2 separate regions of the Homo sapiens genome follow, and region 1 is linked to region 2. The links come from fine-mapping of genetic effects on gene expression. A gene starts in region 2. The other region holds a variant in brackets. All regions are shown on one strand. Distances are from middle to middle.

What was found. PIP is the estimated chance that this variant, and not a neighbour inherited with it, causes the effect.
Region 1: its variant is fine-mapped to the expression of CDCA3 in gastroesophageal junction (GTEx, PIP above 0.99).

What each region holds. Positions count from the first base shown.
Region 1 is chr12:7,086,544-7,094,543 of GRCh38, reverse strand. C1R (complement C1r) reads left to right here and starts at 2,099. Exons shown (of 11, transcript NM_001733.7): 1 at 2,099-2,157; 2 at 2,864-3,092; 3 at 4,296-4,488; 4 at 4,811-4,957; 5 at 5,055-5,251; 6 at 5,558-5,705; 7 at 5,813-5,934. The coding sequence starts at 2,156. RefSeq lists an enhancer at 1,757-2,051. The variant T/C (reference allele first, on the strand shown) is at 4,187.
Region 2 is chr12:6,846,497-6,855,008 of GRCh38, reverse strand. CDCA3 (cell division cycle associated 3) reads left to right here and starts at 3,723. Exons shown (of 6, transcript NM_031299.7): 1 at 3,723-3,787; 2 at 4,000-4,176; 3 at 4,413-4,542; 4 at 5,151-5,444; 5 at 5,580-5,686; 6 at 5,811-6,181. The coding sequence starts at 4,057. The coding sequence ends at 5,966. GNB3 (G protein subunit beta 3) reads right to left here. Exons shown (of 10, transcript NM_002075.4): 10 at 7,616-8,217. The coding sequence ends at 8,111. It overlaps USP5 (ubiquitin specific peptidase 5), which reads right to left and starts at 2,859. Exons shown (of 20, transcript NM_001098536.2): 1 at 2,719-2,859. The coding sequence starts at 2,829. RefSeq lists silencers at 1,868-1,917, 2,888-2,997, 3,668-3,717 and enhancers at 2,198-2,837, 3,108-3,157, 2,261-3,221, 3,228-3,507.

The DNA.
Region 1 (8,000 bases), 240 kb before region 2:
TATGTCTAGATCTATATCTCTACATCTCCATCGCTGTCTCTGTCTAGAGATAGAGATATCGACAATGAGAGAGAGAGGGAGGTAAGAGATAGAGATGATGGAGATAGATGAGCTAGCGATAGAGACATATCCACAGAGGAAAACCTACCACTACTTTAAGAGAGAAATCTTTTTCCCAAGAATCAAATCCTTAAAGGAACAAACACTGTAACCGACTATATCCTCAATAATTGTTTTAAAACAAACGCAGCAGCATTTCATATGGCATTTTTTTCCTTCTTGGTATGAGTCAAGGACAAAACAAAGTCAAGGACATAACAAAAATGTGTGAGTAAAGGTTATTTTGAATGGTTGGGCAGAGTGGAGACAGGGCTGGGACTGAGCTAATGACATCCAGGTTTGCCGCTCTCCAAGCGTGTTGCACAATGCCAACGCAGAACTGAGAATCCCTAGGATGGACGGAAGAGCTTCAGCTAAGACTTACCTCCTTACCTGTTCCCTCTGCCTCCATTATGAACATACGGCACATGCGCGCGTGCACACACACACACACACACAAACTGCTGCTAGGATATTAATGTGCAGTTTGTTAGACGAGATTCCCCTTCCTTCTCGTCCTCTGATCTGGTGCTTTTCCTTCTCCCCCATCTTTTGTCTTTCCTGATCTAACAAGGCTGTGGATCATATGCTGATCCCATCACAGACCAGCCCTCCGTTAGGTTCAGTCCTCAGCTCTGACACACAGGCCTGCTGGAGAAACCCTCCAAGCGTTGGTGGATCTTGCACCTTCTGTGTGCCTGCTGTCTAACTACTGATGATGTGGTCACTGCCTGATGGGGAACTGCATCAGCTCTGTGAATTCTTGCAATCTATTGCCTGGGAAAGTGTCTTGCACATTAAACAGGTAGCCCATAAATGGATGAACGGGGGTGGGGGCAGAAGGGTGGAGGTTGGAGGGATTCATCTAATAAGGGAAACAAGCAGAACAGCCTACAAAGGCTTAAGAACGCAGAGTCCTGCTCTGCAGCCCAAGCCCCTCCGTGGGATGAAGTGCCATCAGATATTTGGTGCCATGGAGAGTTGATGAAGAAAGCCTTCCAAAAACAATGAAATTGTTTTTTAATTTATTTTAACTTTTAGAGACGAGATCTCACTATGTTGCCCAGGCTGGTTTCGAACTCCTGGGCTCAAGAGATCTTCCCACCCTGGCCTCGAAAAGTGCTGGCATCACAGGCATGAGCCACCACACGTGGCCAAGAGCAAAAGTTTTAAAGCAGGACACTATGGCCTGATGGACAGGAGAGACTAGGGTCCCTCCTCCCTCCCAGGGGCCTGGCTTCATCTCAGAAAAACCGAGTCCCTCTTGCTCCACACCCGCATCCTTAGCTTCAGCCCTGGCAGTTGTGTTGAGCAGATGCTAAGGAGATGGGGACATTTTACCCCCTCCGCAGCCGCCCCAGAGGGTCTCAAACCCAGGGCTGATTTAGGGTTGCCCTGACATGGCCAACCCTATTCTATGTCCAAGTGTCATTCATGGCTAAAGCAGGCCAGGGCCCCAAGGCAACCAAGCTCCTCTCTCCTCTGCCCGCTCCCACACACCCTCCTCTGCCCCAGTGTTCCTATCATTACGTCCTGGGCATTGAAACCCGGGCCATTCTTGGACCAGGGCTGTGGGCTGAATGAGGGCAGGAAGAACAGGGTCAATGGGAAAGGACAGCCCAGAAAAGAGAATTCACCACCACCTGTGGTCTCCCACTGCTTTGGTAGGAACCTTGTAAACACAGCAGCAGCCCCCAGGAAAGTCTTGGAAGAAGGGAGAAGCTGATCAGATTTAGAGACTGAGACATCTGGGCCTCCAACCCAAGGCTCCCCGGGCCCTAAAAAGCCAGACTCCCGTCTCCTTAGCCCTTTCCCTCACCGACCAGCAGGTGGCACCACAAACAGGGATTTCAAAACCAAAACTAAATTAAAGTGGAAACTCAGATCTTTTGTTTATGCAAATAGTTCATTCCCTCCAACATTCCTCCGGGAATGGTCCCCCCTCCACTCCACAGAAAACCCTCCCCTCCCTGCTGTGCATGACGCGGGCTCCCTCTGCACACAGTGCACGAAGACGCTGTCGGGAGAGCCCAGGATTCAACACGGGCCTTGAGAAATGTGAGTAAGGGTGATGGGCAACCAGGTGGGAGGGAGAAGCCAGGGGAGAAGCCAGGGCATGGGAGGCAATTCAGGGAGACAGGAACACCCTTCTCTCTTCACACACCTCATCAGTTCCACTGTGCACACGCGTGGACACACACAACACACGCCCCATCCCTCCTCCTAGGGATCAGAGGAGACTTCATACATAGATGCTCATGCCATGGTCCTTTCTTCCCTCTGGGCTCTTGGCAGGGAGCAGCGAGAGGAGGGGACCCCTTGCCCAGGACGGGACACTCTGTGCCTGTGTCCCCCACTCCACAGATGGTTTCTCCCAGACGCTCTTGCTGAACCTGTGGGAGCCCTTTCAGAGACCCACGGGTGGAAACCCTCACCCTCCATTAACTGGTCCCAAGCCAGTCCTATTCCTGGAAGGGGAGGGGAGGGACGCGTCCGGGCAGGGGAGGAGGCTGGAAAGGGAGTGTGAGGGGAGTGTGGTGGCCTCTGGACTGGACACTGCCCTGGAGAGTGACCCGATGCAGCAGCTGCACAGGCCATCCTCCCCACCCACGCACCCCTGCTGAGAACATGTCTGTGAGGTTCAGGGTGGGCAGAGAGGAGAATGCCCAGTGGTATGGCCGTCTCATCCCCTGCCACAGCCACTGCCCACATGGCAAGAGTGCTGAACCCCTCCAGCTCCAGATACTCTCTTTTGTTTTGGCAGGTGGCTCTTGTACCTCCTGGTGCCGGCCCTGTTCTGCAGGGCAGGAGGCTCCATTCCCATCCCTCAGAAGTTATTTGGGGAGGTGACTTCCCCTCTGTTCCCCAAGCCTTACCCCAACAACTTTGAAACAACCACTGTGATCACAGTCCCCACGGGATACAGGGTGAAGCTCGTCTTCCAGCAGTTTGACCTGGAGCCTTCTGAAGGCTGCTTCTATGATTATGTCAAGGTAGGGGCAGGATGGGCGGGCAGAGGGGAGACAAAACTGGGCCCTCTGGGATCTGGGATCTGTATGGCATGCACACCCCCAGACACAGCCCAGCCCCACAAGAGCTGATGGCCAACGGCCTCTCTGAGAGCCCGGGGATGCCCTGGATGGGCGCTCACTGGTGTAGAGGCCCTCGGTGAGCACTGAGGGGAGAAGCACAGAGAAGGAAGGGGACAGGACCCACTCAGGAAATTCAACATCCACTGAGTCAGGAAAACCTTCCCCATCTGCTGTCTAGCTGAGAGTCTTTGGGAAACCACTGTGCCTCAGCTTCCCTGTCTCCAAGGAAATGATTGACATGGCTGCCTGCTTCAACAGGAACACAGGGACATGAGGAGGAGAAATGTGGGCTCTGGCAGCACAGGAATAGCCTTCAGCAAGGACAGTGTGCTCAGAACCCTCACCTCTGTGGCAACCAAGGGTACCTTCCCAGGCCTGTCTTTCTCTATCCAGTAAAAATGAGATTCAGGGCTCAAGCAGAGCCTGCGAAGGTCCAACAACTACCATTCCCAGGAGACCCCTGGAGATTATGCGTGAATTACATGACAATGGCACGTCTTACCGGCTCAGAAGACTTGGCGAGTGTGCAGTGTTGGGGGAGGGCGTTTGCTGGCAGAGTCAAGGAGAGGTTGAGGAGGCTGTGAGGAGGAAGGAAGAGGGACGAGGCAGTGCCTGCTGACACTGAGATGGGTGGGCTTCAGGGCTCATGTTCCGCCGAGGGCATCAGGAGGCACTCGAGGTGTGAATGGTTTGATTAGGCTGAGGTGGAATCTGAAGACAGAAAATAAAGCGGAGCTGTCTGAGCTCTGGGAATGAGGGGCAGGTAAAGGCTGGGTACAGACAACCAGGACCCCAGGGGAACAGGCCATAGGAGGTGGTGGGGATGGAGAAGGACCTGAAACCTGCCAGAGGAGCAGAAAACAGGGAAAGGGTGAGGTACCCAGTCCAGGACAACACGCAAAGAGTGAGTCAGTGGGAGACTCAGGGAACAGCTGAAAGTCACATGGGGAAGTTTGCAGCAGCTGAGCCCAGCAGGTAGTGACCAGCCAGAGCCA[T/C]TGTGGTGCATGATGCACTCTGGGCGAGACAAGGAGGACCATCACTGAGCCACCACGTGCGCCACTCCGCAACAGATCTTCTTCCTACCCCCTGTCCTTCTTCCACCAGATCTCTGCTGATAAGAAAAGCCTGGGGAGGTTCTGTGGGCAACTGGGTTCTCCACTGGGCAACCCCCCGGGAAAGAAGGAATTTATGTCCCAAGGGAACAAGATGCTGCTGACCTTCCACACAGACTTCTCCAACGAGGAGAATGGGACCATCATGTTCTACAAGGGCTTCCTGGCCTACTACCAAGCTGTGGGTGAGTAGCCCCCCAGGGATCCCTTTTCTCTGACCTCAGCCATATTGAATGGGGGGCCAAGAAAGGGAATCTTGAATGCAAAGAAGCCGAAAGCCTGGCTTTCCTTGTTCCTCCCCTCGAGAGAGCTTTTCCTAACGAGGCCTGTCAACCTGGGCTCTGTCCCCATGGAGCAGTCCCCAGAGAGCATTGGAGAGGCCTGGAGGTCCAGGTGGCCTAAAGATGCCTTTGTCTTTAGGTCTCTGGTGAGTGACCTCCCTAAGATCAGAGCCACTACTCAGGTCTCCCAGCAGAAGCTTAACCCTCCTTCCTGAATGCCTTCCAGACCTTGATGAATGTGCTTCCCGGAGCAAATCAGGGGAGGAGGATCCCCAGCCCCAGTGCCAGCACCTGTGTCACAACTACGTTGGAGGCTACTTCTGTTCCTGCCGTCCAGGCTATGAGCTTCAGGAAGACAGGCATTCCTGCCAGGGTGAGCCAGAGTGGTGTAGCAGAGGGGAAGGGGTTGAGCCAGGGCTTGCTGGGCCAGCTGGAGTCCCCCGTAATGCCCTGTGGCTCTGCTCTCACAGCTGAGTGCAGCAGCGAGCTGTACACGGAGGCATCAGGCTACATCTCCAGCCTGGAGTACCCTCGGTCCTACCCCCCTGACCTGCGCTGCAACTACAGCATCCGGGTGGAGCGGGGCCTCACCCTGCACCTCAAGTTCCTGGAGCCTTTTGATATTGATGACCACCAGCAAGTACACTGCCCCTATGACCAGCTACAGGTACAGCCGTCCTACCCCTGAAAGACCCCTTCCTCCCCTTCTGTCTGCACTTGGCTCCTCTTGTCCCAACTTCCTCCTGGATCCCCTGGCCAGCTGGGGCAGGAACGGCCAACATCACCCATGGGCTGGGTAAGTTCCCACACAACTAGAATTGGGTCATGGGGATCCCTTTTCACCTTCCCCTGAAAACACACATAAGGCAGGATTTCATCACCACCACCACCACCCTGGCCACCAGGCTACTACCCAGTTGGCCCTGTGTAAAAACGTCCAAGCTGAAAAAAAAAAACCCTCCTCCCCTACTAGATCTATGCCAACGGGAAGAACATTGGCGAGTTCTGTGGGAAGCAAAGGCCCCCCGACCTCGACACCAGCAGCAATGCTGTGGATCTGCTGTTCTTCACAGATGAGTCGGGGGACAGCCGGGGCTGGAAGCTGCGCTACACCACCGAGAGTAAGGCTCCCTGCAGGCCTCCCTCGATGGCCAGCAATGGGGAAAAGGGGGGAAGAAGGAAGGACAAGTGGCTCTGAAATAAATATGCCCCCTGGTCTCCCCAACAGTCATCAAGTGCCCCCAGCCCAAGACCCTAGACGAGTTCACCATCATCCAGAACCTGCAGCCTCAGTACCAGTTCCGTGACTACTTCATTGCTACCTGCAAGCAAGGCTACCAGCTCATAGAGGTAAGAGCCCAGGGCTGAGGGGAGAGAGCCGGCCCAGCACCCCAGGAGGAATTCAGGTGGTGGGTTCACAGAGGATTTAGTCTCACCCCAGCTGGAGTCGTAGACGTTTCAGCTGGAAGAGTCTCCTGGTCCACCAGCTCTCAAACTTGCTGCACACTTAAAACAGAGAGTTTAAAATCCTGGAAGATTGCTTGAGCCCATTCATTCAAGGCCCCTGTGAATAGCCACTGCACTCCAGCCTGAGCAATATAGCAAGACTCTGTCTCTGAAAAATAAAAATAAGCAAATAAATACTGAAGATGAGGGCCCCCAACAGAGACTCTGATTCCATTGATCTAGAGTAGAGCCTGAACATCAAGACTATTTAAAGCTACCCAGGTGATTCTAATGCACAGCCAAGTTTAAGAACTATTGCCCTAGTCCAATAACTCAAGAGAGCTGAAGGAACTGAAAAGGCAGGGTGGAGATGTAGTGACTCGTCAACATCACGTAGCGATTGTGTACGGCAGGGACTAGGACGCCAATCTCCTGCCTCCTGCTCCGGGGCTCTTTTACACATGTTGGTGGTCTCCCCCTGCGCCCACCGTCCTGTCCTCGGCTCTGCAGATTCAGGAGGGAATATGGTTTTATCCATTGATCAATCTCACAAAAGCTGGTAAACTAAAAATCTCTGTCTCTGGACAGAGACCCAAGACTGGACATCCCATCGTTGTTCAACAGGTCCACATGGAACACTTAATCAGAATCAAAGAAGAGACCTAGGATATGTCCTTAAGTCACAGTTAATTCATTTAATGCACACTTTAAGTGTCTACTGTCAGGCACTGTCCTAGATGTGGGAGGTTCAGTAAAAAGAAACCCACATAGTCACACAGCCTTTGTGGAGCTCACATTTGAATGTTGCATCAAGTCGAGTTCACCTGATGCATTGTTCTTTACTCCAAGGTGCTTCCAGCTCCATCAGGAGGATTGGGTGGGTGTCCTGGGTCCAGAAGAATGGAGACTACCAACCTCTTTGCTCCTATTACAACCCTCCCTTGCCTGCACCACCCACTGCCCTTACTTTTGCATTTGTTATTCACATCATAGAATTTAAAGCAAGTCACACGGTTTCTCACATTACCTACATTTTACTCAGACGTTCTAGTTCTCATACACATTCTCTTACAACCTTTTCCAGGGCTAACTCCATGGAATGATTTTTGGTCTTTTTGTTTTGTCTTGTTTTGTTTTTGAGAGAGAGTCTTGCTCTGTCACCCAGGCAGTGGCATGGTCTCAGCTCACTGTAAACTCCGCCTCCCAAGTTCAAGTGTTTCTCCTGGATTCAAGCTATTCAAGTGCCTCAGCCACCCGAGTTGCTGGAATTACAGGCGTGCGCCACCATGCCCAGCTAATTTTTGTATTTTTAGTAGAGACAGGGTTTCTCCATGTTGCCCAGGCTGGTCTCGAACTCCTGGCCTCAAGTGATCCGCCCACCTCAGCCCCCCAAAGTGCTGGGGTTACCGGCGTGAGCCACTGCACCTGGCCGAATTTTGGTCTTAGTAAAACTTATTCATTTGTCCAGTAACTTTTCATTTCAAAGACTGCCATTTCCTAGTCTTGTCCCTGCTCAATAGCAACAGCACTTCACATACATCAACGTCTCCAGCACCTTTCAAAGCTGCGAGGTGGCTCTAGTATTTTAGGGAAGGCCTCTGTCCTTAGGAAAACTGCAACCCAGGAGAGATAAAGTGATGCACGCCTGGAGGCAGGGGACACCAGCAAGAGAAACACAGTTCTGCCCTGGAGCACAGGCTTTTGTTTTGATACAGAAAACACTCAAACGTGGCTTGTGATTTTTTCAAATTACAAATTGTGGGATTCAACTGGACCTCAGTAGGAACAGGCCACAGTCTAGAGAGAGGATGATCAGGTCTATCAGTTAGCTCTGCTCTGACTTGCTGTGGTGTGGCTCAATGCTCCTGTCTGTAATGGGCTGGGGAGAAGGAAGAAGGAGCCACATCCATGGGGGAGCCACATCCATGGGGGAGCCACATCCATGGGGGAGCCAAGAGATGTCTTGGTAT
Region 2 (8,512 bases):
TACTGTGGACTTCCAGTGCTGGAGATTACATTCAAAGGGAAAAAGGGTCCCTTCGTGGGAGAGGAAAGACTTTCATGTGAGACACTGAACCCAAACCAGGGGACACCTAAGACAAACCCTATCTCATCTCCATGATTCAGAAAACCTTCCAGACCAGAGGAGCAGAGATTCCAGCACTTGAACAGTATATCTGACCCGAGTGTGCCAGCAAGCAAAATTACCTTTCCTTTAAAAAAAAAAAAAATTTTATTTTAGAGACACTGCACTCTGTCACCCAGGCTGGAGTGCAGTGGCACGATCATAGCTCACTGCAGCCTCAACCTCCCCGGCTCAAGTGATCCTTCTGCCTCAGTCTCCAAAGGAGCTGGGACTACAGGCACATGCCACCATGCCTAGATTTTTTTTTTTTTTTTTTTTAGAGGTGGGGTCTCGCTATGTTGCTTAGGCTGGTCTTTAACTTGTGTGGCCTCAAACAATCCTTCCACCTTGGCCTCCCAAAGTGCTGGGATTACAGCGGTGAGACTAAACATCCAGCGAAAAAGACCTTTCTTTTACCACATTCTACCAGGTAGTCGAACCCTGGTCCACACTGTGAGTCTTCTCCCTCCTCTCCTGCTGAAGTGTGGCTTCCAGGGGAACAATGACTTGTTAGGGACTCACAGCTAAACATGCACCCAGTCTGGCAGGGTCATGAAGTCCAGCATTCCATAGCCACCACCCTCTCTCCTCTGCCTCCCCTCCGACCAATAAGATCCCTGCTGAAGTCCCAACAAATCACCAATCTCAAAGCCATCCCGTTCTGACAACAATCTCGCAACACTTGCTGAGATAGCTAGAACACACATAACCCGTGAAAACAGGGACAGACGGGTGTCCACCCAGAAACACAGCTGAGAAGGGAGGATGGGCTTCCCCCAAAGCTGACCAAGTTTTCCAGTGCCTTTGTAAAGAGTGATGGAGAAGGTGGAGGAGGAAATTGGAGACAATAAGGGTCTTCCCTCAGATCCAAGGCTTTGAGCAACAACAGACATCCTCTTCCAGGAATAAAAGTCTCAGTGGCCTTGAACATTTCTCTGCTGTGATATGAAAAATAGTGCACTGTCTAAGGTAGTTCTTGGTCCCATAGATTGCTCTGTACCACTTCCTAGGAACAGTGTGTACTGCAAGTTCATGAACAAATAGAGCATTTCTCACCGGGGAGGTCAACTAAGCTCTTTCTACCATGAGCCCAATTTGAAGGTAACCAAATATGCTGGAAGTTGGTTAGCAAAGAACTAGGGCACACTGAAAATCTCTTGACTTGGGGTGAAAAAGGGAAAGTTTCAGAAGATTACAAAAACCCTTTTTGGATTATTCAAAGCAGTTACTAAGGAGAGAGACAGGAGTGAATAAAAGTGTAAAGAGGGACCCACTGACTTCTACCACCTGCTGGTAATTTAAGAAAAACCTTTCCCTCCTGGGAAGAATGTGGGAGCTCTGAAGTGATTAAACTCCTCTGTTGGAAATTAAAGATGCTGATTTCACCAAGGATTGGGAACCCCGGAGCTCTGCTCCGCGCAGTGCTCTTTTACCTCTGCCAAAGCCAGACTTCAGAGAAGCAGCACATTGTCTGAGGCCCAGATCAAAGCCTAGCAAACCAAGCAAACCACAAATCACAGTGATGATCCTGAACTGGGCCTCACATCATGCTGTTCTACTCAGTACTGGTGATGCAGTAATGAAGGCTTTCCACTCTGACTTGCAGTTTTCAGGCCATGAGCTGGTTCTGGCAGAATACACTGGGCAGGGCACAGCAGCTTGAGGGGAGGGGTGGTGAGGGGGGCGGATCCCAACCAAGCTGCTGCCTTCTCAGTTCAGGCCCCAAAGGGCCTCCGCTTGAGGGTGACATAGGGAAGGCAGAACTGCAGGAAGGGAGGTACCAGGTGGAGCCTGCAAAACGTGAAGCATGGTGTGGGAGGTGGCTTTGTGTAACTAGCCAAGAGTGGGAGCGGGATGGGAAAGAGGCCTTAGCATCCTCCGAGAAAGAAACCACCTCTCTAGGAATACTTTAAAAGGGGTTATCTCAGCTGTCTGTGATAGGCTGGGGGGCGGGGGGAAGGGTGGGGGCTGCGGCCATTGCTCACTTCAAAGGAGAAACGACTAGAGCTTTCCTCTCCTCTTTCCTCCCCTCCCCGCCCCCTGTCTGTTTTAACCACGGGGTGGAGGCTCTCTGCCTTTCTCAGAATCGGACTTCTTGAGAGTCCACTCCCAGACTATTAACCGCCTAGGAACTGCGGTCCCCACCCCCCAACTCCAACCCCGGCCGAGAACAGTGGGGAGTCGTCCCCATCACTCCTACACGAGACTACAAAACCCGGAGAGCCGTGCGCGGCAGACAAGGCCGACTGCCAGGTTTTCTCAAGGGTCCACTTGGGGGATGTAGTCCGACGGTCGGGCTGCGCCCCTAGCTTAGAACGGCAACGAAGGCAGTGAGTGACTACAATGCCCACAGTGCTCCACGAAGCGGGGAGCCGGAGAGGTGAGCGCGGCGGCTTCCGGGGACGGTAGTCACACGACAGCCGCAGTTAATGAAAGGCAACGGCAGAGTGGAGCGTGGGAGACTACAAGTCCCATGGTGCATCGCAGGGAGGCGGTAGCCCAAGCCTTGCAGGCCCCAGCGGAATGACCAGGGCGATGGAAGGAAGTCGTGCTCGTTGCGGGCGTGGGGAATGGGCTTACCGGCGTGTCGAAGGAGAAGGCGCACTCGTCTTTGTGGACCCGGTCTCCAGCCTTAGGGACCCGGATCGTCGGTAATACTGACAGCAGCGCCTCCTCACTCAGCTCCGCCATGACACCGGCAGCAGCTTCTCCACACACGGCGGCTCCCACCGTTCCCAGTCCCCTCCCCTGCCCCTCCCGTCCAATGAGCGCCACTCGTTAGGGGCATGCGCCGCGGAGACGACGCGCGAGAATGGCAGTTGGACGGAGCCTGCCTGCCGGTGCTCCGCCCCTGCCCCGCGCTTGACTGACGCCAATGAGAAGCGCTCCTAAGGCAATTGATGGTTGAAAGAACCAATCCCACTCCTCCAGGGCGGGAGCGCACGTAGAGCAGCTAGGTGGGCTTCGGGGTTGCAGCTGCTGCGGCTCCGCAGCTGCTCCGGCTCCGGGACCCTTAGAGTCCATTCGCGTGCCTTCTATTGAAGAGCAGGAACTGACGGTTGTTTTAGGCCTCTCAATTCCAGAAAGTTTCCTGGGGACCTGTCCGGTCGGAAAGTCGAGGGACAGTTGTCTTGGTATTTGTAAAGGGGGTATCCAGTGAGGCGGAGCTTGAGGGGGTTGTGTCGAGTGACTGATACAGCTGTCAACCAATAAAGCTACTATCGCTCGCCTCAGGAAAACCATCACAACTCCAGCTGGATGTGCGCATAATAGTGTAATCACTCATGATTCTATTTTGTTTAATAATTCGTTCTTGAGACTAGACGTCTCGAAAGCGAAGACTGGCACTCCTCAGCCTGCCACGGACGGCTCGCAGGCCGATACTGAACAGAAGTACCCTTATCAAGGAGGCGTCACCCCTGGGCAAGCCTAGCATCAGTCCATTGACACCTACAGTCACCATGATAGACGTTCTCCCAGACCAACAGCTTCCTTTGGCTCGAGGCGGGTCTTACGTGGAGGGCCTATGGGAACTACGTCGGCTCAGCCAATAGGGTCAGGGCAGGGGGCGTGGCGGGAAGTTTGAAACTGGTAACTTCGGGAGTTGAGCCACGAGCTGTTGTGCATCCAGAGGTGGAATTGGGGCCCGGTAAGTGATTTGAATAATTTAATAAATAAGTTAGAGGGCTCAGCAGGCCCAGAACGAGCCATTTTGTCAGCTGCAGCAGTCATTAACTCCGCAGAGGCCTCTGGTCCCTCGCCAGGAAGTTTCTTCACTGGAAACTGGGAAGACAGGGTGGTTTAGGGTTGAAGGTCCGACGTGGAAGAGATAAGGGCTGAGACCTGAGTCACTTCTCACAGGCATTCCCTCCTCGTCCCGGGCTGGCCCTTGCCCCCACCCTGCAACTCCTGGTTGAGATGGGCTCAGCCAAGAGCGTCCCAGTCACACCAGCGCGGCCTCCGCCGCACAACAAGCATCTGGCTCGAGTGGCGGACCCCCGTTCACCTAGTGCTGGCATCCTGCGCACTCCCATCCAGGTACTCTGGGCCAGCGTGGGAAAGGCAGAGAATGTCTGAATTCTTGGGTCTCTTCCTAACCTGATTTTGAGAGAGCCGTCATGACCCCACCCTTATCCTAGCCTTATTTTCTGCAATCTCAATCTGTGTGGGGTAGGCTGGATATCTGAGGGCCTTGGCAATTCCTTCCTGGAATATGGGGAGGAGAGGAGAGAAGAGTCAGGGCCCAGACTTGTTCTAGCCTATGGTCTTGACAGGTGGAGAGCTCTCCACAGCCAGGCCTACCAGCAGGGGAGCAACTGGAGGGTCTTAAACATGCCCAGGACTCAGATCCCCGCTCTCCTACTCTTGGTATTGCACGGACACCTATGAAGACCAGCAGTGGAGGTAAGCGTTGGGCCCAGGGAATGCTGATGAAGCTGTCATCTATTATTCTTGGGTAGGGTCCATGAAGCCATTCTCTCAGGGTTCCTTAAAGGGGCCTCTATCCTCCTGCTTCGGACCCATCTCACTCTTATCTCAATATTTTGTTCCCAGCCTGGGTGCGGTGGCTCATGCCTGTAATCCCAGCACGTTGGAAGGCCGGGGTGGTCAGATCGCTTGAGCCCAGGAGTTCAAGACCAGCCTAGGCAACATGGCAAAACCCCATCTCTAGAAAAAATACACACACATAACACACACACACACACACAAAAGCACGGTGGCATGGGCCTGTGATCCCAGCTACTCAGGAGGCTGAAGTGGGAGGATTGCTTGAGCCCACAAGGTCAAGGCTGCAGTGAACTGTGATCACGCCACTGCACTCCAGCCTGGGGGACAGAGCAAGCCCCATCTCAAAAAAAAAAAAAATTGCTCCCTTTCACCTTGATTTCCTTGATTTCTCTCTTCCCACTTGCTCACCCTCCTGGGCATGAGTCCTGGGTTTCTGTATGTTTTGCTCCTTGCTGAATGTTGTGTATCAGAAGGTCACTGTTCACTTCACTTTCTTCCTCTAGACCCCCCAAGCCCACTGGTGAAACAGCTGAGTGAAGTATTTGAAACTGAAGACTCTAAATCAAATCTTCCCCCAGAGCCTGTTCTGCCCCCAGAGGCACCTTTATCTTCTGAATTGGACTTGCCTCTGGGTACCCAGTTATCTGTTGAGGAACAGATGCCACCTTGGAACCAGACTGAGTTCCCCTCCAAACAGGTGTTTTCCAAGGAGGAAGCAAGACAGCCCACAGAAACCCCTGTGGCCAGCCAGAGCTCCGACAAGCCCTCAAGGGACCCTGAGACTCCCAGATCTTCAGGTACAGAATCTAAGGCAAGATGCAGGGAAGATAAACTAGGATAATGTTTTGGGATAAGGTCCATGGGTGAGTGTGGGAGGAATAAACTGTAAGTCCTAGTTTTGGGTCCTTGCTTTAACGCCTTACCCACCCCAGGTTCTATGCGCAATAGATGGAAACCAAACAGCAGCAAGGTACTAGGGAGATCCCCCCTCACCATCCTGCAGGATGACAACTCCCCTGGCACCCTGACACTACGACAGGTAAAGGAAGAGAAAGTGCAAGCTGTTACTAGGATATCCAACGTAGAGGGTGGGAGACCCTTTTACCCAGATCTTCCCTCTTCTGAACAGCAACTCCCCCCAACTCATACACTGCCGTTTTCAGGGTAAGCGGCCTTCACCCCTAAGTGAAAATGTTAGTGAACTAAAGGAAGGAGCCATTCTTGGAACTGGACGACTTCTGAAAACTGGAGGACGAGCATGGGAGCAAGGCCAGGACCATGACAAGGAAAATCAGCACTTTCCCTTGGTGGAGAGCTAGGCCCTGCATGGCCCCAGCAATGCAGTCACCCAGGGCCTGGTGATATCTGTGTCCTCTCACCCCTTCTTTCCCAGGGATACTGAGGAATGGCTTGTTTTCTTAGACTCCTCCTCAGCTACCAAACTGGGACTCACAGCTTTATTGGGCTTTCTTTGTGTCTTGTGTGTTTCTTTTATATTAAAGGAAGTAATTTTAAATGTTACTTTAAAAAGGTATATGTAAACCTTGCACCGAGTTTTCTGTGTGTAGAATGGCGGCCTAGAGAGCTTGCGTTCCCTGGCCTGAGCCCACTGATGCTCTGAGCCTTCTTTGCACATCTCCCTTTAACCATGGTGTCCCTATGGCTCTGTCCTTGGCCCTGCTCTCCCTGGGTGTTTACTTCTAGGGCTTTAGCTATCACTTCCCTATATTCTGGTAACTTTCAGGTCTCTCTCTCTAACCCTGACCTTTATCCAGCTGCTTTATAAGTACTTCAAAGTCAGTTTGTCTAAAACTGAATTTATGATCTTCCCCCAAAAGCTATTCCTCATTCCCTCTTCCCTATCCTTGTGAATGACAGCATTATCTACCCAGCCACCAAACCCAAACCTTGGCCATTATCTCGAATCCTTCCCTCCCAATGTCCTATATCCTAGCATTTGGTCACTAAATCCTGGTGATTCCACATTTTGTTTGTTTGCTTGTTTTTTAGAGGCAGGGTCTTGCTCTTGTCACCCAGGCTGGAGTGCAGTGGCACGATCACAGCTCACTGCAGCCTCAACTTCCTGAGCTCAAGCGATTCTCCTGTCTCAGCCTCTCCAGTAGCTGGGATTATAGGCATGAGCCACCACGCCTGGCTAATTTTTGTATTTTTTTTATAGAGATGAGGTCTTGCCATATTGCCCAGGCTGGTTTCAAACTCCTAGGCTCAAGTGATCTGCCTGCCTCAGCCTCCTGAAGTGCTGGGATTACAGGCATGAGCCACCATGCCCAGCCTGCCCAGGTAATTTTTAATTTTTTTTGTAGATACAGGGTCTTACTATGTTGCTCAGGCTTGTCTCAAACTCCAGACCTCAAGAGATCCTTCTGCCTCAGCCTTCCAAGGCTCTGCGATTACAGGCATGAGCCACTGTTCCAGCTGATTCCACATCTTTAATCTCTTCCTAATCCCTCTCCCTAACCCCTCTGTCCTGTCGCTCTTGCATTTCTTGCCACCTGCCTCCTACCTTGTTTCCCCAGTGCCAGTCCCTCCCTTTCATCAACCTACACTGCTTCTTTCTGAAAGATCTGGAGCAATCTTTCTGAGAAGCATAACTGATCATGTTACTACTCTGCTCAGAACTCCTCAATGGCTTCTCATTGCCCTTAGGAAAAAGTCTGGACTCTCTGGCTTGACATTCAAGACCTTTTATAATCTGATTCCTTCTCAAGCTAACCCTCCCGTACAAACACATGGGCACCACAGGCAGGCCATAGCGAACTGCTGCACACAGTCCCCCAGCCACCTGCTGAATACCTTCTCCCCCTGACCCATCTCAGGCCTCCTCCCATAAGCCCACAAGCTATCCAGTACCCAGCCTTTATCACAGCACCTGTAACACATTACTGCCCTTAAATGGGACCTGGGTCTTTTTGGAACAGAAGAGAGTAGAAGGCAAACATCACAGATGTACCAGGGTGCTACACTTTATTGCAGGTGTCTTAGGAGAGAAAAAAAGGTAGAAAAAGGAGAAAGCATGAATAAGAAGAGGGCCAGGACCCTAGTGGTGCCAGAGCCATAGTCACAGGGCCAAACGCCCTATACCACCCAGGCCTGGACAAAGGTAGTGGCTCTGGGGGAGGAATCCTAGGGCCTGGGGCCTCAGACTCAAGTCTGCTGGGCCTGCAAAGGGCTGGGGAGGGGCAGGTTGTCCTTGCTCATTAAGGGAGAGGCTGTGAGGACTGTGGGGAGGGAAGGCCATGGGAGGAGATGGGGCAGTTCTTTGCCCCTGTGTCCCTGATGCTGCCTCCCAAAGGCACAGTCCCATGCTCCCCACTGCCCTCAAAGGAGAAAGCTTAGTGGGAATGGCACCCGGAATATAGAAGAGAACACCTGAATGAGATGGGGTCGGGCAGGGGGCTGCTGAGTGTGTTCACTGCCTTCCACTTCCCTTTCTCCAGCCTCCTCAGTTCCAGATTTTGAGGAAGCTGTCCCAGGAACCTGTGGCCACAGCCATCCCGTCAGCTGTGACTCCCAGGCAGCTCACCCTGTTATCGTGGCCAGAGAGGATGCCTGAGGAAGAGGGAAAGGAGTCAGCCTGTCTCTCCAAGCTGATTTGGAAAGCAGTGTGTGCATGCGTGTAAGTGTATGTGTGGGTGTGTGGGTGTGTGTGTGTATGTGGGTGTGTGGGGGGATATGTGTGCATGTGTATGCATGTGTGGGTGTGTGTACGTGTGTGTGTGCATGTGTGCTTGAGCACATGCATGCAGGGATCCTAGACTCGGTAGACTGGGCTCAACCCCTGAAGAAGGCTAAGAGACTGAAAGAGGATTAGCTGTAGGGCAGGGGGTTCTCTGTCAAGAGCTTT